Linked DNA regions of Homo sapiens. The protein of the gene in region 2 interacts with the protein of the main gene of each other region in a pairwise test. Each region holds a gene or a part of one and is shown on either strand. Other genes may lie near its edges.

What was found. The genes of interacting proteins can lie anywhere in the genome.
Region 1: the proteins of PRKAA1 (region 2) and RBPMS interact in binary tests that used the Homo sapiens proteins (3 or more experiments, as listed by UniProt).
Region 3: the proteins of PRKAA1 (region 2) and HMBOX1 interact in binary tests that used the Homo sapiens proteins (3 or more experiments, as listed by UniProt).

What each region holds. Positions count from the first base shown.
Region 1 is NC_000008.11:30,380,053-30,387,920, reverse strand, and holds the start of RBPMS (RNA-binding protein with multiple splicing), read right to left. Parts: upstream 3,381-7,868; 5' UTR 2,829-3,380; coding exon 2,763-2,828; exon of another isoform or gene 2,520-2,762; intron 1-2,519.
Region 2 is NC_000005.10:40,760,115-40,768,113, forward strand, and holds part of PRKAA1 (5'-AMP-activated protein kinase catalytic subunit alpha-1), read right to left. Parts: intron 7,577-7,999; coding exon 7,352-7,576; intron 5,125-7,351; coding exon 4,638-5,124; intron 4,527-4,637; coding exon 4,400-4,526; intron 4,354-4,399; exon of another isoform or gene 2,909-4,353; coding exon 2,664-2,908; 3' UTR 1-2,663. UniProt on the Homo sapiens protein: Catalytic subunit of AMP-activated protein kinase (AMPK), an energy sensor protein kinase that plays a key role in regulating cellular energy metabolism.
Region 3 is NC_000008.11:28,962,776-28,970,774, reverse strand, and holds part of HMBOX1 (homeobox-containing protein 1), read right to left. Parts: intron 6,965-7,999; 5' UTR 6,908-6,964; coding exon 6,885-6,907; intron 733-6,884; coding exon 256-732; intron 1-255. UniProt on the Homo sapiens protein: Binds directly to 5'-TTAGGG-3' repeats in telomeric DNA. Associates with the telomerase complex at sites of active telomere processing and positively regulates telomere elongation.

The DNA of each region.
Region 1 (7,868 bases), on a different chromosome or scaffold from region 2:
CAAAAATACTCCTAGATCCTGAACTGTTCATTCTACACAATTAGAACCAAAGAGGCATTTCAGCACAATTATTTCAGGGTAAGCATTAGAAACTCTCAAAAGAAGCTAAAATACACTGATTGATAGAAGGAATTCGTTTCGAAACTAGAAACACAGAAAAAAACAAACTTGGGTTCTACAATGTGGAGAAAGCCCAAACCACCCTCATGATCTGTGAAATAAACTATTTTCCCTTAATGATGATTGGACTCATTTTTCCATGTCAGTTCAATGGCTACCAGAAATTACAACGAAACACATTTTTCCTCTCGTCATTACGTGTATATATCTATGTTGTATGTGTGTGTTCTGTTTACTGGAGTCCACCGCCAAGGTTTTTAAATGTGCTTAAGAGCAAGTTGCTGATACAATGGGTGGGCAGGGAAAGGGTCAGTGCAGTGGTTTTGTGTAATGCCGGGCACATTAATGGCACTCACCTAATACTCTATTTATTTTACCTGTGGCTTTCAGGGTTAGAAAGAAAAAAACAAAAAAGAGGTTAAGAGTTTTTCAAGAACAAAATATAAACCAAAAATAGGAAATTAAGGCAAAATTACCTGGATCATTCAGGCCACCTTAGTTTCTTTTCCTCAATTTCTGACATTATAAACCCCCCTCTCTTCACGGTCTTAACTGTTTTGTACACGACATCTCTCTTGGACAACTTGGGTTCTGAAATCTTCCTACGTGTCCCCTTACTTTTTACATAACAAGTGTTTTGCTAAAAAGACCGATACTTTCTAGAGCCACATGCCATTCCTACCTGAAAAGGAACGCTGTCAGATAACAGGACAAGTAAGAGGCAGCAACTGTACTGCAATGGCCCGCGATTATACAGCGATTATTATACACAACCTCACAAGGACGGAGGAGCGTCCAGGAACAGGGCAGGCAATCCCTTGGTCCTGGCAGCTGTTAAGAGGGGTCAAGCAGAAAAATGTGACTTTTCTATACTTAATTTTAATGTGGGTATGATTTTTAGGACATTGAACCTCTTTTGCTACCTACCAAAAGGAAAAAAAAAAGTTTTCTCAACTGGGTGAATAAAGAAAGATGGTTTCATATAATATTCTAACCCTGAGAAGCAAACAGATTGCACATCTAGCTGAAACAGAAAGATTTCTGAAGCGATGATTATCTTGATATGGTAAGTGAATTAGTTAAATATGGTAATTCCTAAAAAAGCACACTTGTCATTATTTTTAAATTTTTTTAAGTGGTAGGGAAAATAAATAGCAAAGCAGCCAGTAAAGTTCAAGAAAAAAAATCAGAACACACCATTCAACTCTCCATCGCTTTGAAAAAAGAAATGCCAGTAGCATTCCTACAATTGTAATTAGAAAACATGCAAGTAAACAACTCTTCAAATAGTCTTTTATAATAAAATAGAAAATGTCCTCGGGTGAAAAAGCAATTTTTGGCTGACTGCAATTCATTTAGGTTTTCACTACCATACAACTGGGTGACGAGTAAAATCTCCTATTTATTTTGCATTGTTTGGCATAGTCTCGCTCCTCTACCTTCTCCATCTAAATAGTTACCATTTTCCAAGTGGACAATGTGCAGAGAAGTTGTATGTATTAATGAATTCCTCTGCAATTTTGGTTTCACTATCAGAATTGAAGTTTGCACACAACATAGTGTCTCAACAATGATCTCAACATTCTAACGCTTTAGAATCCGTTTACCTTCTGTGTTCACCTATATCAGGATCCAATACCTGTGTGAATCTTTTCGGGTCATATTTAGACGTGCACTTTCCTGCATCTACACACACTCTCAAGTTCCTCTAGAATGTTTAAGAACTCAACTGTGTGGGATGTTAAGAAGTACGCCAGAAATAATTTCTTGGACTCCAGATAACGTACCTGCAAAAAGAGTCATTTGGTAGGATACCACAAATATCCTACTGAATTCTGAAACGTTTGTTCCTGAGTCCGACTCCCCTTCTGACCACATCTACTCAATTTTGTTTCCACCGAAGGAACGCTCCGCAGTCACAAAACTTTCATCATGATTACGGACGCACCACCTAAAATGCATGCTCAGAAGTCAAAGTCCTATGAAAATACCCTCGATGAGCATTTGGTGAATTGCTGCGTTTTTAACCCTCTTACTCTGCTCCCCTCAGCTGCACGGCCCCTAAAATCACAAGCGTTCACCGCCCAGGCTCGGGGTCTTTGACTCAGCAGAGAAGAATGTGGCTGATGAGTTATCTATTAATCCAAAAAACCTCGGCTAGAAAGATATTTCACCAAGAACTTTTAACACGGAAAGGGAGGGGGCAGGGAATAGAGGTATCTTTTAACGAGAACTTTCCCCCGAGTTTCTTCCTTAAACTGCTCCCCCCCCGACCCTGAATCCATACACAATTTCCAGCCCCGGCCCTAAGTCCTGACCCTCCGAGTCCCGATTATCTGAGGTCACCCAGGAGTCAGCTCTCGGTTCCACTTATAAATCCCGGGCAAACAAAGCTGAGCATTATACTTACAAAAGTCTCCGAAAAGTCCTTGGAGTTACGCAATTTGGGGCCCGCAGACGCGCGTGGACACAAAAACACACGCTCCCGAGATCCACCCTCCCCGGGCCACACTGTGGGGCTGCGTCCGGGGCACGGGCCATGCCTGAACCTTCTTCCACCGCCGCGCCCCGGGCCCGCGCCCCGCCGGCCGCCCGCACTGGGTCCCGCGTCGCCCCCGCCACCACACCGAGCCGCCCAGTACCTCCTCCTCCTGAAGGTTGGCCTCGCTCGGGGTGTTCTCCTTCTCGGCTTTGCCGCCGTTGTTCATCTTCCCGGTCCTTCCTCGCCGGGCCGGGCAGGGCTGGGGCGCGGGGCTGGGCGAGGGCGCGCTAGCCCACTGGAGCCTTCCCCGGGCGCCGGGGCTCCCTCGGGCGGGCGCCGCGGGCTGTGGGGCTGGAGCTGGAGCCGGGGCAGTGGCTGTCGGGCTCGGGTTGGGCTGGGGCTCCCGCGGCGAGTCTGCGACGGCGGCGGCGGGCGACTCAGGAAGTGCAAGGGAGAGACGGGGCAGGGCGCGGGCCGGGAGCGGGGCACCGAGACAATCGGGCCCCGGGAGGGCGACCTGGAGAGGGAGGGCGGGAGCCAGGGGAGGAAGGAAGAAGGAAGGAAGGAAGGAAGCAAAGGATGGGGCGAGGACGCGCGTCCCAGGAGTAAGCGCGGAGAGTTGGGGCTGGGGGCTGCAGCCGCTGGAAGGAGGGGACGGGGGTGCCTAGAGAGGAGGAGGAGGAGGAAGAGGAGGAGGAGGAGCGGGGCGGAGGAGCGCGGGCCGCGGCTGGGACGCTGGGACCCGAGAGCCGCTGAGTACGCGCTCCAGGCAGGCTCTGGGAAGTCCGGGATGGAAGCAGCTCCCTTTCTCTCGCCTTCCTCCCTCCCCTCTCCCCTCCCTCCTCTCCGCGCCTCTCCTCCTCCCTCCGCCCTCCCTGGACGTGGGCTGCCGGCTGCAGCCCGGAGGGACGGGGCGCGGGACGGAGCCCCCCGCGGGAGGAGGGGCCGGCGGCCGGATGGCGCGCGCCGGGGAGGGGCAGCGGGCCGCGGGCGGAAGCGGCGACCCCAGCCCCCGACTCAGCGGCTGGTCGGAGGGCGAGGGCCCGGGAGGCCGAGGGCAGGGAGGTCGGGTCCCGCCGTTCCCTTGGCCCCCGGGGGCCCCGGCGTCTGCGCGCCCCGGGACTTCGGGGACCCTGCCCCGCCGGGGCCTGGACCGGGACCTGGGATGTGTGCGACTTTTAGTTTGCCGGCTTTTACCGAGGGATTTGCACCCCTGGCCCTAAGCCCACCCTTCCCGAGCCAGACCCGGTTCTTCCTCTGCTGCTTGAATGACAGCATGAGAACTCGAGGGACACCGGGGACAGCCCACTCCGGGCCGGCTTTTTCAGGACAGGGCTTCAAACCCATCTCCAGCGCGGGTCCTGCGACGCGCCCGGAGCCTTCCCCGCTTCGCTTCCTGAGCGTCCCGCGGCCCCCCGACTCCTCTCCCAACTCTCACCAGACTGTTCTGGGATTGTTTACCTGGCCTCTCCCTCACCCTTCAGAAAGCTCCTTCCTGGAAGAAAAAAAAAAATCCTGCCCTATTTATCTTTTTAATCCCACGGCTATTTAAACGGGCTAAGGGGTATATAGCAGGCACTCAATAAATATTTGTTGGCAAAGTGAATATTCCTTATTGCAGGCAGAGCTGGGGGTCCGTACGGAGGAACTTCAGAGGCTGGAAGCACGCTTGAAAAAGAAAGGGGGCCTGGGCTTTGCACCAGCTTCAGGATTGCGTACTTGTTTCCTCATCCGTGAAATGGGAGCAGCTGAATGTGTCTCCTCGAGTTTTCGAGGTGATTATAGGTTGATAGAGCTATATACAGCACCCAGCATTTATTCTTGCTTCGTTTAGGTTTACAATACATGGAAGCTAACATTATTATTAAGAAAACTTCTATTTTTCCAGGGCCTTAGAAAGCGTTTCCAATACTCGATCATTTAAGCTTATGGTTTTTTGGTTTTTTTTTTTTTTAGAAAAATGAGGGTCTCACTTTGTTGCTCAGGCTGAGCTCGAGCTCCTGGCCTCAAGTGATCCTCCTGCTTTTGGCCTCCCAAACTGATGGGATTACAACGTGGAGCCACCGTGTTAAACTCTTAGATTTGACTGCTACAAAGGTATAAATGTGGAACTCCATATATCAGTGGGTTCTGCCCCACTTCTTCCTCCCAGGAATTCTCCATCCCAGCCTGCTGCTCCTGTCTTGCACCGGTAACAGTTTCCAACTACAGTATTTGCTTAACTGTTTCTCCCCACCCCCACCAGACATTCTTTATACTTGGTTTAAGTGCTGCTGGGGATAGGGCGGGGGTGGCTGTGGGAGTTGCAGATAAGGACCCTCCCTTTAGGGAGTTTAAAGTGGTATGGTGGCTCACACTTGGAATCTCAGCACTTAAGGAGATAGAGGAAAGAGGATTGCTTGAGCCCAGGAGTTCAAGACCTGCCTGGGCAACATAGTGAGACTCTGTTCTCCACAGAGGGGAAAAAAAGAAAAGACAAAAAAATAAAGTGGTATGGAGCCAAGATACTCTCAGAATCCTCTTTCCGATTATAGAAAGCAAGGAAAATATTTGCTTTAAGGGCATTATGAGGAGAAAAACAGTAGTGATACTTGGATTTACATATTGGATTTATCTTGGGGGTTTGGAGATTTTGAAACAGGAAGATTTCCATAAGGAAAACATGTTTTTTTAATTGCTGTCATAATGTGATTTCTCTCTAAGGGGAACAAACATGTATCCTGGATGAAAATAAACCAACTCTTGAAACTGCAACCCAAGACATTCAGAAGAGATAAGGCTACAGTGAATGTGGAAACTTTGCACGTGTTTGGATGTATTGATTGCCTTAACTGGCAGCTCTTTGCACTGCCAGCTTCCCTCAATTACATGAGGAACCACGAGGGGGCAATGTCTTCCCGAGCAATAATAGCTGAGTGGTGGTCTTAGGACCCCGTGGTGGCCCATGATGCTAGCACTGTGTCTTTGGCCATTCTTGCCTGTCATGGAGCATACTCCACAGAAGGGCATGGTCTTCTTGGATCCCGGCATGGGCCCAACAAAAATGACAATGTAGTCAATAGTTCCACTCAGACCTCACTTAGGAGCAGGTGAACTATGTTGTGTGATATCAGGATGCCCGGAGAACCTCTCCTATCCCCACCCAGGGAAGCATGGCTTAATTCCAAATAAAGAATCTGATTTCTTTGTCTTTAAGCCAAGCCAGGACTTTGTCCATTGTTAAAAGTCAAAAATCTCTGGGATAAGAAACAAAAATAAGTTCCAGGCGGGGCACGGTGGCTCATGCCTGTAATCCCAGCACTTTGGGAGGCCGAGGTGAGCCCAACACCTGATGTCAGGAGTTCAAGACCAGCCTGGCTAACATGGTGAAACACCGTTTCTACTAAAAATACAAAAAATTAGCTGGGTGTGGTGGCGCACGCCTATAATAGCAGCTACTTGGGAGGCTGAGGCAGGAGAATTGCTTGAACCCGGGAGGCAGAGGTTGCAGTTAGCCGAGATTGCACCATTGCACTCCAGCTTGGGCAACAAGAGTGAAACTCTGTCACAAAAAAAAATAAGTTCCAGGAGAGGATCCTTGTCTGGCTTATTCACTGTTGTATTCCCAGCATCTAGACAGTGCCCAACACATAGGAGGCGCTCAGTTATTTTTTAATAAATGAGCATTTTAAGTCTGATGGGTTACTGATTCTCAGGCCTGAATGTTATTACTGGATTTTTCCAAGATCCAGCAGGAAGGACTAAATCAGTGGAGATGTCTTAGAACAGATAGTCACAGCAATGGCATTAGGCAGGGTCTTGGCAGTGTTTTTTTTTGTTTTGTTTTTTGTTTTCTGAGAGTCTCGCTCTGTGGCCCAGGTGACATTGTTTAAGCAAATGTCTCACCCAGGCGAGAACTGTTCAAGCAATTCTCCTGCCTCAGCTTCCCCAGTAGCTGGGACTACAGGTGCACACAACCACACCTGGCTAATGTTTTTGTATTTTTAGTAGAGACAGGGTTTCCTCATGTTGGCCAGGCTGGTTGGTATTGAACTCCCAAACTCAGGTGATCCACCCACCTCAGCCTCCCAAAATGCTGGGATTACAGGCATGAGCCACCGGCCTGGCAGTGGTCTTTAGTCATGATTTTGCAGGGGGGACCCTAGATAGAGACCTTGTGCAGAATGGAACAACTGATAAGGTTTCAAACAGTAAAAGATAAAATCCCACCATTGAGGCCGGGCACAGTGCCTCATGCCTGTAATCCTAGCACTTTGGGAGGCCAAGGCGGGCAGATCACCTGAGGTCAGGAGTTTGAGACCAGCCTGGCATGGTGAAACCCCATTTTTGAAAATACAAAAATTAGCCAGGCGTGGTGGTGGGTGCCTGTAGTCCCAGCTACTCGGGAGGCTGAGGCAGGAGAATCGCTTGAACCCGGGAGGCAGAGATTGCTGTGAACCAGATCACACCACTGTACTCCAGCCTGGGCGACAGGGAGACTCCATCTCAAAAAAAAAAAAAAATCACACCATTGAATTTGACATATCAGACAATAAAATCGACACTGATGCAGGGATGGCTATACTATATAGTCAGTGGTGAGAGTGACATTCAGGGTGTTTTCAGAAAAACATATGGGGTTGGGATAATATGTCAAGAAAAGGGAGATTTCCTGCTTTTTATCCTTTTCATGAAGAGTAGTTTAGAGTTATTTGAAAGAGCAATAATGTATTACCAATAAAACTCAAGGAAAATCTGTAAACAGACTTTTGCTATTTATAAAACTTTGTGATTGAAGGCAAAGAGTTTGAATTTGTGTGGGGGAGGAAAATGTACCTTCAATCAGGGTATAAATGATAATTACAGCTTGTTTATGACTTTAAAGAAAGATTCCAAAGTAATATCTCCTCAGTAGCAATAGTTCTCAGGCATCCTGAGAATTATAAGACCACAAAGGGATTTTTTTTTTGAGACGGAATTTCGCTGTAACCAAGGGATTTTAAATCCTGTAATAGTTGTGCTGAAGACCAGAAAAGTCCGCTTTCTCCCCAGCCTAACACTCTACCTACTGTATTGCCTGACCTTCGAGGTTACCTTGAAAGGGTAATATTGTATACACCTGTAGTTTTTTACTACTCACTGCTGTTTCTCTGGCAGTGTTCATTTCGAGGCTTGCCTTAAGAAATCCAAACCTATAATTATGTCTTAAATGTTTGCCTTTGGGAACTGCAGACATTAAAGGTCTATTTTGAGGCGATTTGCATGGCATGGGCTTTGTACCTATGTT
Region 2 (7,999 bases):
AATCATTTGCATTGCCTCCCTTACCTCTTCAATATTAGTAACAATTTGCAAACAACAAAAAAATTGTGAAAATTCTGTTGCAACCTTGACACACTTAACCAAAGGTTGTCATTTCAAATATCCTAGCTTAAAAAAGAATTTACTGCAATTGTCTGTGCATTTATCATACTATTTATAGAAGTGCAATATTTAAATATTTTCAAAATAAAACACAGTAACTAAAATGAATCACAATAACTTATAAGAGAAGCAAAGTTTACAAAATTAACAATTTTTAAAAGGTCCTATTTAATTGGTTCCTCCTTTTCTTCCCCCCTCCCCACAACAGCGTATATAGCGCCATTACTTAATTCCATATACAAATTTGTAACTTTAAAAATACAGTCTTCTGTTAACATCAGGAACATTATGCTGCACTTAGAGACCCTAAGTAAAATTAGAATCCCCTAAAGAGAGGGCCACATAAAAAGTAAATACAGTTTTGAACTCATATTTAAATGGAACTTCTATTACTTTGTACAGCTTTCAAATTAGAAGTTGAATAGAACAAGCCCTGGACAAAAAGCAGCAAGATTTTTCTTTTGAATTCAGTGCATGATTCTAGAAGTGCTTGAGTCAAATCTACTAGAGTCACCATTTATGCAAGCTATCATGACATTTGAGTTCATTATCATCTGGTTACATAAGTGCTCACTGTATTTGCCAAAAATAATCCTAAAATATGATTCTTAAAATAGAAAAAATATAGCTCTGTTGCAATGGGAAAATGATTAATACAAAAAAATCAATTTCTTAAAGTTAACATAAGGCAAATATAAATGATACAATATTATCATACACGATACCAATTTTATCTGAGGTGACTACATCTTCATTTACATCTATTGTGTGATGCAATTAAGAATGACAAAAAAAAATATCAGTGTAAATCAGAAATCTTAGGAAAATCCAGTATCTTTAAAAAGTAATTTAAGCCCAAAACAAATGTGACCACTTATTAATAGAATTGATTTGTTCCATATTTTATCAAAATAATAATAATGTTATATCCAACTAAAGAGTTATAACCAAGTGTCATATGTAAACTTTAATTGGATCCTAGTTTGAAATAATCAGCTATAAAGAAATTTGGAGTTAACTTCAGAAATTTAAATATGGCTTGATTAGATGATATTGGGGAATTATTACTTTTACAATGGTATTACGGATTTTTAGGAGAATGTCATTATCTGTAGGAGATACTTGAAGTATTTTCACGGTGATAAGTATGTCTGTAACATCCAAATGGTTCAGGGGGAAAAAAGCATATATACATACACAAACAAACACATATATGCATATATATGCATAACTAGCTGTATCTATACATATATAGGTATAGAGAAAACAAATGACAAAACATTAACAACTGCTGAATCTAAATGGTAGATATACATGTGCTTACCAAACAGTTTTTCAATTTTTCTGTTTTTAAAAATGTTCATAATAAAATTTGGGGGGGAAGTCATATCAGAGCACTTAAAGTTTGTAAGAGATAGTTTTCTATGCACTGAATCAATTTAAAAGATACATAATCAAATAAGTAGCAATGTGTGCATATACTCAATAATGACTGACATGATGGGCCAGAGGAATTTGTGAAATTGGCAAAAATAATATGATTTATCTACAGTATATGCAACTCAGCTCTTGTAACAAAAAGAACATTTTGTGTACAGAATATCGTGGGAATATTTTAAGACTAAAATTAGTGCTAGAGTATCTGAATATATAAATTCTGTGTTTTTGGACTTGTAAAGCTAAAATGAAATTTAAATTAGGTCTGATATCTGATATGACTTACCATACACTACAGAATTTTAAAAGGGGGATATGGAGGCCGGGTGCGGTGGCTCACGCCTGTAATCCCACCACTTTGGGAAGCTGAGGTGGTGGATCACGCGGTCAGGAGTTCGAGACCAGCCTGGGCAACATAGTGAAACCCCGTCTACACTAAAAATACGAAAAATTAGCCGGGTGTGGTGGCACACGCCTGTAGTTCCAGCTACTCAGGAAGCTGAGGCGGGAGAATCACTTGAACCCGGGAGGTGGAGGTTGCAGTGAGCCGAGACCACACCATTGCACTCCAGCCTGGGTGACAAAGTGACACTGTCTCAAAAAAACAAAGAGGGAGGGATATGGAAGAAGTTATCCAGACTGTTACTACTGCTGGAAGATACTAGCTATTTATGAAGTTAAGGAGCCCAGAAAACAAAATCACCTATAAAGGTCTTGGGAATTCTAGGCAAATATTTATTGAATAAATTTATAACACGTAATATATAACACGTAATAATATATGAAGGCCTTTATGTAAATTAATATTTCAAAGCCCTGTGTACACTAAATATAAAATAGCCAAAAATCAAGTAAGCCTGAGACCTATAATTCACTGTGTATATTATGCTATATACATACTGCACAATGAACAACAAAATGATCTTAATTCATTTCTGCATATTAGGCTTTTAACTATAAATCATGTTCCAATCCCTGTGCAAATTGCATTCCAAAACGCCAGCCCTCGGTTATAATTATGTATAACTTGATTACAAATGGAAGCATTTGGCTGTGACTTATTATGCATGCTTATTGCTGCAAAAGAAATAAGCAAAGTTTTCTGTTTATTGTGCAAGAATTTTAATTAGATTTGCACACATCTCAAAAAATTCTATTGTGTGACTTCCAGGTCTTGGAGTTAGGTCAACAGGAGAAGAGTCAAGTGAGGTCACAGATGAGGTAAGAGAAACTTCTGAGGATTTTCCTTGAGCCTCAGCATCTGAATCACTCCTTTGGCAAGATCGATAGTTGCTAACTGATCCCGATCTCTGTGGAGTAGCAGTCCCTGATTTGGCTTCTGTAATTTCATCTGGGTAAAAAGAATTTCAATTTATTATAGTCTATGACCTTCTCCCAAAAATTTTTGTAACAGTATTGAATTTGCTTCTTTAAGTGGGGCTGCTGGCCAGCTATCAAGAGCACGCTTATTCTAAATACCTTCTAAAACAGTCAATGAGCCTGTATTAAACTATTCATCTTTTTTACATATAGTATGTATTCTCAAGATAGCTAACCAAAGTTGGGTACAGTATAGCTACTCATCAGTTGCAATCCAAGGTTAAGAGCCCAGTAAACCAACAATCTAGGGATTAATAAATATTATTCTATAGCAATAAAAAGTAATCCCTCTATATTAAAATCATAGAATCGATGCACTTAAAATTTGGAGGGTATACTGGAAACCATCTCATCCAGCCCCTCACTTTATTGATAAGAAAACAAACCCAGAGAAATGACTTGCCCAAGGTAACAAATGAACAGAAAGGTAAGTCTAGAACCCAACTCTCCTAAGTCTCAGCTCAGTGCTTTTTACTTTCCACTTTCCCTTCATATTTCATTTAGTATTTCATAAAAGAGCAACAATTCCAATGAATAAAAATCGAAGAAAAACTAAGGTTGGGAACACAGTACAAAAACAAAATGGGCATTCAATTGGTATACCCCAGTACTAGTAAATCTAAGGTTGCAAATTTGATCCAAATACAAGAAAAATAAAACTCATTCCGTATTTCAGACTGCATTAGTATATGTTAGCAGATACGTACTATATGGACCTAAAGATAACCAGACAAACTGGTTTGGCCAACATATCATGGCTCAAACCTGTGTCTTTCTGCTACTATGTGTGTACTATCTTTGAGTTTATAAAGAAGAAAAAAATTCAAACGTGAACCTCATCTAATAATTCTATGCAACCTTCCATAAGCAAAGGTGATACTATATATATATATTTTAATATTTTGTAAAGACAGAGTCTCAGTATGTTGCTAAGGCTGGTCTCAAATTCCTGGGCTCAAGCCATCCTCCCACCTCAGCCTCCCAAAGTGCTGGGCTGTTTACAGGCATAAGCCACCACACCTGCACTCAACAGCGTAGCTTAATGCAATTGAATTGGCCAATGAAGAATTGCCATAACTTCATTCTTAACTGAAAACTTATTTAATAATAAATAAAAGCTTACAGAAGAGTCAATATTTATTTCTAAATAAAACATTGTCTCTTATCAAAATGAACTACACCAAAAAAACAAATGCAGCAGAAAACTATCACCTTAGGATCAGACTACACCTGGCTTTAAGGATTTTACAAGATGATAATCTTAAAAGGACAATATGCTATAAGATTACAAGAAAAATAAGATTCATAAATGTTAATATTGCAAAGGCACAAGAAATCACATTTTTTATTCCTTTGCAGTTGAATTACTAGGAACAAGTCAAGAAGCCTCAAAAGAATCAAGGCGTAAAATACCAAGTTAGTAACAAGGTCTAATCTATGTTGTTTTGTGTGATGTACATACCATCAATACTACGGAAATCCAGTAGATAAGTTCTACTATCCACTTGGTATAACTGTAGACTCATTTTGGAGTAAGTGCTTGTCACAGGATTCTTCCTTCGTACACGCAAATAATATGGGTTTACAACCTAGCACATGGTATAACAAAAACCAAGTCAAAAGTAATTCTTCTATAAAACATTTTATAGACTATGGGTTTGCCAAATATGCTAATAATCAAAATGTTATTTCTTTCTTACCTTCCATTCATAATCCAATTGTTTGATTGCTCTACATACTTCTGCCATAATATCATTTGGTCGACTTTGACTTCTAATTCCTAAATGCCATTTTGCTTTCCTTACACCTTGGTGTTTGGATTTCTGTGGATTTAATTCATCAAGGGTATGGCGTGCCCTTGGTGTTTCAGCAACCAAGAATGGTACTCTTTCAGGATGGGGCCGAGTCAGGTGATGATCATCAAGAAAAGAATCAGGTGGGCTTGTCGCCAAATAGAAATCTTTGGCTTCATTCATTATTCTCCTGTTATCTATTATGAGATGGTAGGCAACTGCCAAAGGATCCTGGTGATTTCTGTTGTAAAGACAGCTGAGAACTTCCTCTTCTGAGCACTCAAACTTTTCACATACTTCTTTTAAGGCTTCATCATCAATCATGGTTGAACTATATGATGGATCCTCAGGAAAGAGATATTTTGGAAGGTCCTGTTTAAACCATTCATGTTCCCTGAGAGAAAAATGGCAGGATCAGGAGAAGGACTTTGAATAGAGCTGAGACTGAAAGTAACAGTTTAGGGAATTTAGAATATGACTTAATTTATATTTATATTCATACTGTATTATTGTCACTTTTTGCACTGAAATTTTCCTCTTCTAGCTCGCACTTCATTGTGTATGTTGAGGGAAATGCTCCAATTTCCCTCCAGTTTTAAGAGGGAGAATGTATTGACACAGCAATGGGGGGAAAAAAGTTATGGGACAAATGACAGCGACAAACAATGAAAAGAACAGCTTATTTCCAGCTTAGAAAGAGAACATATTAGGTAGCTTCATTATAATACTCTTTTGATATAATGTTAAGTGAAGATAATGTAACAACAAGAAAAATAGTAGACAACTACTGAGTACTTACTATATGCTAAGTTTTATGCTAAACACTTCATATACACTATCTCCCCTCATCATCGAAACAATTATATGAAGATAATATCTCTTTGTTTTAAATGAAGGAATTGAGGTTAAAAAAAAAATCAAGGAACATGCTCAAGGTCACAAAGACAGTAAGTGACAGAACCAGGATTATGACCCAGTTCTGTGTGACTGGAAAGGCCATGCCCTGAATGATTTCCTATTCTAATTCCCTAACTTCGTATATTTAAGAATATGTTTGACCTGAACTATGTCACTTTGCTAAAACTAAATAAAATCCAGAGACGAAAAAAAAAACAAGAAAAGAACAATGGTTATCTTCTGGGTCATGGGATTAAAGATAATTTTTTATTCTCTTCTCTATTGTTGGTGTTTTTCTAAGTTTTTTCAATTGTCATGTATTATATTTTAATTGGAAGAAAATAGGTAAAATACAAACAAAAACATTTCTTACCTAGATATCTTAAAATATAAATTTTAGAGAATGATTTGTCCTTTCCCTTTGGTGATAAAATCATGCCGTGCCATTCATGGTCTCTTTTTTAGCTAGTCTAAAACGTGTAGTAAGTGGAAAGTAATCAAGCTTCAAGTTCCACATATAATCTTTCCTTCTTCTTCATTATACTAATGCTTTCATATTTACTATTCCTAGATCCATATCTGATTTCTTTCTTCCTTCTCAGATAAATGTGCAGTCTAGCCATTAGAAGACCAAAAGGACCAAAATTTCCACAGGGGGGAAAAAAAAGAAACAAGGCTTGCAATAAAATTGTTTAAGTCTTCATCAGAAATGGCTCACTCTAATTTGAGAAGAAAATTTGTCATCGTCATTTTTGTCTAATTTAAACTATTAGGTTGAACCAGATGAAACTGGTTATACTGACTTTTACCTACAAAACAGGAATTTTGCATGTAATTCAATGTATACTACCAGGAAAAACATGTCAATTAAATCTCATTCCTTGGGATTAAAAAAAGAAAAAAAATACAATAATTCATGAGATAAGAAATAAAATAGCCACCCACAAATTTACTACTGAAAAGTATTAATCCTAACGCCAGGCATACTGGCTCACACCTGTAATCCCAACACTGGGAGGGAAAGGCACAAGGATCACTTGAGGCCAGGAGTTCAAGACCAGCCTGGGCAAAAATAGCAAGACCTGTCACTACAAACAAAAACAAAAAGCAAAACAATAACAACAAAAAACAGCCAGGCATGATGGTGGATGCCTGTAGTCTCAACTACTAGGGAGGCTAAAGTGGGAGGATCACTTGACCCAGGAGTTACTGGCTACAGTGAGCTATGATCACACCACTGCACTCCAGGCTGGGTGACAGAGCAAAACCTTGTCTCAAAAAAAATAAATAAATAAAAATAAAAGATATACATATATATGGGGCCTCGCTATGTTACCCAGGCTGGTCTCAAACTCCTGAGCTCACATGATCCTCTTTCCTCAGCTTCCCAAAGTGCTGGAATTACAGGTGTGAGCCACAGCACCAATCTTTCATTAGCTTTTTTGTTAATTTAAAAAGTAATATGATGTTCACTGTAAAAATTTCAAAACAAAGATGTGTAAGTAAAAAGTGAAAGCCCTCCCTCTTACGAATCTTACTTCCCTAAGGTAACCAGTTTACTATGTATTTCTAATAACAAAATAAAATAAATGTGTCTATACACTCTATTTTTTTCACATAAAAACAGGATTACACTGTATATTCTGTTCTGCAACTTTTTTTTTTTCACATAACTTTTATCATGGATACTATCAGATCTGATAACTTCCAAACTGCTTTATTACCTGATATCTTTGATTGTGGCCCTCTTCATGGGATCCACCTGCAGCATATGTTTCAAAAGGCTAATCACAGAAGGATTTAAATATTGAGGGGTATAGAAGATCCCATCACATATCTTCTTAAAAAGAGTTGGCACATGGTCATCATCAAATGGAAGGGTTCCACATAATAAAGCATAGAGAATAACCCCACTGCTCCATATATCTACCTCTGGGCCTGCATACAATCTGTAACAGGAAATAACAATTGGATTAAAGAATCATTTTAACCTAAGATTCAGTTCATCAAAAACTTCAAATATGGATATTTCATAAAGAATTCTTAAGCAGAATATGGTTTTTATAGCCACTACTACATGTTACAACGTTAATTCCATCAGTATTATCTTTGAAAACAAAAGTCAAGAAGTTTGTAAATTACACACCATGGCTAAAATTCTGTTCTACTATTTACTATGGCCCTGATGGGATCTGACAATAGGGCCAAATCTTGAACAAACATATCACTATTCAATTTAAAACCATTGGTTTTTGTTACAGAGGAGAGATTAAGTGATATTTCATCAACTGAGAATGTTCTTTAGTAATGGACTCTGAGCCCACAATCCCAATAACACAAGACCCCTTACACCAAGGTGAAAGGATCCTGAG
Region 3 (7,999 bases), on a different chromosome or scaffold from region 2:
GATAAACAGAATGGAAAAGGCTTGTCAAGCAGCAAAGAGAAAGGGCTGAAGTAAAGAAGAGAAAATTTAAATTAAAAACATAAAGCTTGAACTTTCTTTCTTTCATCTCCAAAGGTGGGAGGAGGAAGTTACAGTTCTTATAGCTAGAGGAAGTTACAGTTCTTATAGCTAAGTAGCTGAAACGCAGCATACTACTTAAAAACAATCTAAGAATACAGACATTTTTAGGGACTCTGAATAAGCAAAGTCACTAACCTCATTAATTCTTCCACTTTATCATCTACATCTAGGTCCTCTTCTGAGGCTTCAAAACTGTATGACCTCTGACCCATGCTGTTTGCATGGTAGCGAGTTGGTGACATCTTTCCATTGGATGTAGATAATCGCTCATTATTCTCCCTCCCATTTTGATTGGTAGTGCAAGGCTGTGGGGAAGTATCATAACTGTTGCTAGGTGACGGGGACATTCCCGAATGCTGCGTCTGTGTGGAAGCTGTAGCTGTAGAGGAAGATGCTGGGACATTGTTAGTACTATTCCCATATGAACTTCCTCCATAGCTGGACCTTCTTCCAAACTTGTCACTATGCTCTTGATCAAGACGGTCCAAAGTTTCCAAGGCATGGAGAATTTCATGTTTAGTCATTCCAGTACGCCGAAGTCGCTGAAGCAGATCTATCTGCTCTATGGTAAATCTGGGTTCATCTGTATAATGAGACATGGTTTCCAGCAAACTAAAAAAAAAGAGATAAAAAGAAGTCTCTTTATTGACAGTATCTACCAAAGCACATATTATACAGAATGCTCAGAAGATGCAATATTTCTACATAAGCTTCTGTATTGAAAATGAAGGTATGTCCCATGCTAGAATGATTGTGCCATGGCAAATGGATTGGTACAGATACTAAATGTATTAGTAGGTGAACATAGGTGTAACATAAAACCTAATTTCATATGGCATACAATTTACATTTTCCTCAATTTTGGTAAATATCAGAACCAAAATTTTAGTTATGTAAATAATACCAGAACAATAGATTAGGTACATGGAGTGCAATAAGCCCAGGCTACGTGATAACTCAGAAGTGTTTTGCCCATCTCAAGTGTATTACTCTACATTAGAGTATTAATGGAAAATTACTGAAAAAAATAGTTTGTATTATATTATTTACCAAATATTAGCTAAACAGACCTAGGAATTCTCTACAACCTCATTTAGTGAGAACAAATGATTTGCTAAGCTAAGTCCAAGCAAATGCTAATAACCAGCAAAAATACTTAAGTGGAAAACAGAGGTACATTAAAAAAAAAAATAAGCACCATTTCATTCACTACTTAGCAATTTCCTAAGTTTTCCATCTCTGGTAATGCATTCTCTCTTAATAGCTACCCTGAGAAATAGATCTTTCATGGTTGTAGCCAAACAATGCTATTCATTTTTCTTAGGAAATTACTTTTACATGTTTCCTTTAACTAGCACAAGATACTACAGCACATCAGAAAATGTTTTCTTAGGGTGAGTAACAATATTAAGGGAGTAGTCAAATACTATAAAAATTCTCACTGCTTGAATCCCTTTGTTGTTGTTGTTGTTGTTGTTTTGGATACAGAGTTTTGCTCTTGTCAACCAGGCTGGAGTGCAGTGGCGCAGTCTTGGCTCACTGCAACCTCCACCTCCTGGGTGCAAGCGATTCTCCTGCCTCAACCTCCTGAGTAGCTGGGATTACAGGCACCTGCCACCAAGCCTGGCTACTTTTATATTTTTAGTAGAGATGGGGTTTCAACATGTTGGCCAGGCTGATCTCAAACTCCTGACCTCAGGTGATTCGCCCGCCTCGGCCTCCCAAAGTGCTGGGATTACAGGTGTGAGCCACCATGCTCGGCCTTGAATTCCTTTCTTATAAGACCTGAGTTTTCCATTCAAGATTTTTTAAAGTTGTAATCTCTTCTATTTTGATATTTATTGTTCTAGTGCCAAATATAATGCATGGCATGCAGTAGGCTCTCAATAAGTGTTTGCAGATGGAAACAGATGTCAAGAAATTTCTTCATCTTTCTCAAACAAACATCTGCTCTGGGCCAGTGTCCTATAGCTATTGAAGGTCTCACTGTTTCTTTGTCCTTCTACATGAAAACTTTATTAACAGTCACTTCTAGGCAGGAACTGGGTACGAATTTCACATAACATAATCTCATCCAATTCTCACAGCAACTCCCCATGGTAGATGTTCTTTATTCATTTCATTTTATGTTGATGGATTGATTGTTGAGGAAACTAAAGCTCAGTGTAGTTTTGTACTTCACAAAAAATCTGAGTAAACAGTAGGAAAAAGATTTAAGCCTAGATCTTATTGACTCCAAAAGCACACATCATTCTCCTTTACAATACATTGCAGGACTTAACTGGAAACATATGATTTGGCACACAGGCTATTCTACTCCTTTAAGTCTCATTTAAAGCCATTTAGATAAAACTATTCTAATTACTGATGAACCTAGGGGTCCTAGTAATAGTTTTCTACATTTAAAATCCTTGCTCCATCTAGAATTTTTATTGACTTAACAAGTATAAAAAATTGGGGCTTTATTTCATCCCAAATGGACAGCTAGATGTCGTATGTTTTTACTGAATATCTGTCTTCTCCTCCGATGTGAAATGCTGCCTTTATCATATACACAATTTCCATATGAATCTGCATTACCTTTGGATAGTCTATTCCATTTCACTGATTGTTTTATCTTTCAAATCCTTTTAAAAATAAGTAGGGAAAAATCTAGAACTGTAGATGAAATCTTCCTGGTTTTTAAAACAAGCTCATAAAAATAAAACAAAACCAAACACACACATTCTGTGGACCTAAACATGTTGCAGGCCATTTGTGCCCATGGGCCACAGTATCTGCTCTACACCTACAAATGTTAGGGTCTGATTTCTTCCAATACTCACTTGTAACAAGTTAGCCATGATTTTAAAAAGACCTATTTTCATGATTATTATATTCTTTCTTGATGGCCTAAGTTCCCCCACAATATTTTGTAATGAAAAAAATTAAACATAAACATTATTATTTTCCCTTGAAAATGAAGTAGACCTGTTTGTTGCTATTTTCAGTCTTCATGTTATCAAAGTATTTCATAAAGTGATCTTACTTTAGATGACTTCAATAACTGTTTTATTATATGGACAAAAATCCCCAATCATAGTATTTTCCTATAGTATTCATATCAGAGCAGTTAGTTATCTATATACAGTTCTTCAAACCATTCCTTGTATGGAGCAGCACTCTGTATTAGCATAAAGCAAAAGTAAATTGTATGAATTTCACTTATTACTGAAAAGTATCCATCCTAACACTTGAATTAGAATTGTCAAAACTAAAGATTTCACAGCATATGAAACAATCTAATATTTTGTGTCATTTCAGATTCATTGACTATTAGAACCACTTTTATTCCAAGTCATAAAAGGAGAAACAATAGGCCACCTATTTACTTTGTCTGCTTAGAACACCTCATTCTTTCCAAGCACATGTTCTTGGGCTATCACTCGTAATACCCCACCTTCTGGCCAGTGGGGTGAGCACAGAAGAAAGCCAAACCTTGCTCTCCCCATAATTTTCTAGTCAGACGAGGGGAAAGATGAACAGTCACCATAACTGTGTTCAGTTGCAGGAAGATATTAGTCTGGTAAATTCCTCATTATATGGAAGCAGCTAGTTCATGGGAGGAAGAAGCAGACATACCAAGAAACGTGGAACAGAGCGATGGAGAAAGCTCTGCAGCACTCACATCCCTTGTTCCAATAATCCCTAAGCCCCTGATATATCCCTGCTCTTCTTGCTGTTTTGTTTCATCAGAGAATACATTTCCCTTTATGTATCACCTTGTTCAAATTAGATGTCTGTGCCCTGCACTGAGAGTTTCCTAATGCAAATATAACCTAAAGCAAAATGATCCACAATTGCTAGAATGATCATTCATATGATCACTACAAAGCAAAGTGATTAAGAGCATAACAAACAGGATCAAAGCATGCATGTGACACTGAAGATACAATATTTTACTGAGAAAACGCTGAGTCTAGAAGCTCTCCTGGATATTGAGAATAATGTTCCAATGTGTATTAATATAAACAAAGGCATATACTCCGGCATTTCACAATTTTATTTCTCATAATTTACCTAGTTTAAGCATATAATCACGAATTTATGGCAGTAAATGACCTACAAAGGTCATCTAAGTCCATGATACCAGCAATTCTTTTATAACAGAAAAAGATAACATGTAAGAATTGAATTAATTTTCTTATGCACAAGGATTGTTCAGAGGATAAGGAACATCTTTCACTTTAAATTACTAATCTGAATGCAGACTCAGGCCAACAATAATTGAAAATGATGTGAGAAGAATTTCACCACTGTAATAACAGACAGTGTTTAAGGCATAAAAGAACAATTAAATTCAGGAATTATGGCTCAGTTCATAAACTGATATTCTAAGAAAATATCATACCATAAGACCATAATAATAACTTTTCACAATACATTTTATCCTGACTTGAATATGTACCTAAACCCTTCTTGGATAAGGCATGAGGTCTAGAATATACTTTCATAAGCTAAATTCTACAAACATGTAGAGCAAAGAAGATTAAAGCATTCACAAATAATTAATCTTGAAATCACAGAGGTAAAAAGGACATTACTATCTTACTTGTAAAGCACCAACAGTAAAATTTTATTGGATAACAGCTTTTTCTTCAGCTCAATTCTGCTGTCTTTATTTTTATTATCTAGAATGACTAGGCAAAATAGGTTAGTTTTGTTTTGCATACATGATATTTACTGCATGCTAATTTAACACACTCTAGGGTCAATCACAATATTTTTATCAGAGAGAGAACTCTCCATCCTCTCAGGAATGTCACCTCATGTCAAACTGCATATGTGAGTTACTGTCACAACTACTGGACTTCAAAATACATATACACTCAAGAGCTTAACAGACACTTTGGGAGCTTAGGCTGTGGCAGGGCTACTCTCTGTCAGCAGCTTCTCCAAAACCAGAGAGCTCAGGCTGCAACAGGCCTCAAAGCTTTTATACCTTGCAGGCCAGCATTTTCTAGCACTGAGGGGCCTTCCTTGTGGTCTCAGATCTCAGCTATGGTGGTCAAGCCAGCCTCTCCCAAGAACTGCTCATGTAAAGGTACACCTCCACCTTTAGCCTTCACTTGAACACAGAGGCCTCCTTTCATCATAATTGAGCAAAGACACTTTAATAGCTTTGGAACACATTCATAATGTGGTTAATGTACCTCATCTATTGAGTGTATTCCCTGTGAAGTCTGTCTATGTTACTCTCCCCATCTTTAAGTACTGTGAACCCAAGAAAAAATTCTCTTTGTATGGCAATAAACACTGTGATTCATGAAATCATACTTTGATCATCTTATTTCTACCATATGTGACAAAAATCCAAGTACAAACATGCACATTTATAAAGGGAGATATAAGTTAGGTGTGGAATGAGAAAACTGGAGATCACTTAGACAAAAATCATTCATTTAAGTAACATTTATTGAATGCCTACTATGTAACAGATCCTGTGCAAGGCACAGAGGACACAACAAGGAACAAATCAGGCAAAAATTCATGGCTTCATGATGCTTACATTCATTTCAGTAACTATTAGACATCTTACTATTTTCAATAGCCATTAGACGTCTTAACTCTCCTGAATGCTTAGCCATCTATCTCAGAAACTTCTAGGCTTTGAGCAGTTAAAAATAATAAGTAATTTTATATTCAATTTAAAATTAATGTCAAAATTCAAAGTTGAAAATAGAAATGGTAACAGAGAAGGCTGATAGATTGAAAATAGCCATTAGCAAATAAATTTTTTTAAAAAGTGGGGAGGGAAACTAAGGCCCAAAGAGGTGAAGTGCCTTCCCAAGGATATAGCTACTTAGCAGAAAGTCGGGCTACAGTTCACATCTTCTAGGTCTGTTCCAGAAACTTTTCACTATATCATAGAATCTACTGGGGTGGGGGTGGGGGAACTATAATGAAAAGCCTAAATAATAAGGAAAATCTCTCTTAATGTTTACTTACTGTATTATAGAACTGTCAACCAAAACGGAAGGAATTTAAGCAAAGTGGAGACTCCATCAAATTTTAGAAAATACTTATGCTAAAGGCACTCTGCATTCGACTCTAAAGATGCACTTAATGAGCTAATAGATACTCTGTCTTCTCTAATATCTGAAATTCCCGGAATACTTTTATTCAAAGGCCTATTTAATATGAACTGGTGGTTATAGTTCATATCCTAGCACAAAAACACTCTCAACACAATACCACTATCTCAATTTGTATTTTCTGCCTGACTCCAAAGAAAGGCTAGCACATCAGCTAATAGGCTTAACTACATCATCATGCCCCCAGCAGGTAAAGGAAAATGGTTAAGGTGCTAGGAGTTTTTACACAAAAGGCAACATGAAGATGTATGCTTCCAGTAGTCTGCTTGTCACAAGGAATCTAATATTAGCTCTCTTGAACTGTTAGTCATCTATCTTGGATGCTTCTAAGCTTTAAGCAGTTAAAAATAATAATTAATTTTATATTCAATTTAAAATTAATGTTAAAATTCAAAGTTGAAAACAGAAATGGTAAGAGAAGGCTGATAGATTTAAAAATTCATTTCTCACCACATGATCATGACACTTATTCACCTTAATGTCAAATAGGTATAACATTTGATTCATTTTCTAAAAAAGCTTTTCAACTCTACAAACGTCTGTTGTCAAATCTGGATCATAATCATAGTGACATCTTAACTTTACTAAAATGATTGTGAAGATAAAAATCAAAAAGGACTTGATACTTACACCACTGGAAAGGAACTAAGCATACTTTACATGAGGCGGATCAATATCCTTTCCAGAGATGATCTGCGTTATCTACCATTCTGTAGAACAAAGATAGAAAATTGAGAAACATTTATGTTAATCAAGTGCTGAATAAAAATTTTAATTATGTAACTGATGGACAGCAAGAGTTAACACTAGCTAATCATGTTAAATATTATATCTTCTGATTTGCATTCTACTGCTTTATTCACCATACACTTTGATCCCTTTCAATTCAGACACAGATCTTAACAAAAAATGGTATCTACTATTCATTGTTTAGAAGCTAAAGATCATGAAGACAACTTATTAGCTGGTTAAAACCATAGTTATAGAGGCACTGATTTCCATTAACTCTAAGATTATAAATTAGACAAAAGTTAAAAATGTTGATGTCAAAAACTCTCACATTGAAATACATATTCAGTACTGAATTATATTAAGCATGGCCAAAGTGTCCAACAATGACTAATGATATATGCAAAATGTACAAGGTAAAGTTAGAAACCTTTCATATTTGTATATTCTAAACTGTAGCACTAATGAAGTTCCTGTTGTAGATAATTTTCTTGTTGACTTAAAAACAGGCCAGGCGTGGTGGCTCATGCCTGTAATCCCAGCACTTTAGGAGGCTGAGGCGGGTGGATCACCTGAAGTCAGGAGTTCGAGACCAGCCTGACCAACATGGCGAAACCCCAACTGTACTAAAAATACAAAATTAGCCGGGGGTGGTGGCACATGCCTGTAATCCCAGCTACTTGGGAAACTGAGGCAGAAGAATCACTTGAACCTGGGAGGCGGCGGTTGCAGTGAACCGAGATCGCACCATCACACTCTAGCCTGGGCCACAAACACATTTTTCACTACCTGCTCAAATTCAGTTAAAATATATGAGGCACCTGCTTGCCCTGGCATAGACACAAGAACTAAATATGAGTAAGATATGGTCCCAACAGTAGAGGAGCTTAGGAGTTCATTAAATGGCGGGAGGTGGGGAGAATAGAGACTAGGGACAAAAATTATAGACACACCCCTCTCAAATAAAAAATATAATACAAAAAAAAAGACCAAAAATACAACGTTTATATGAGTAA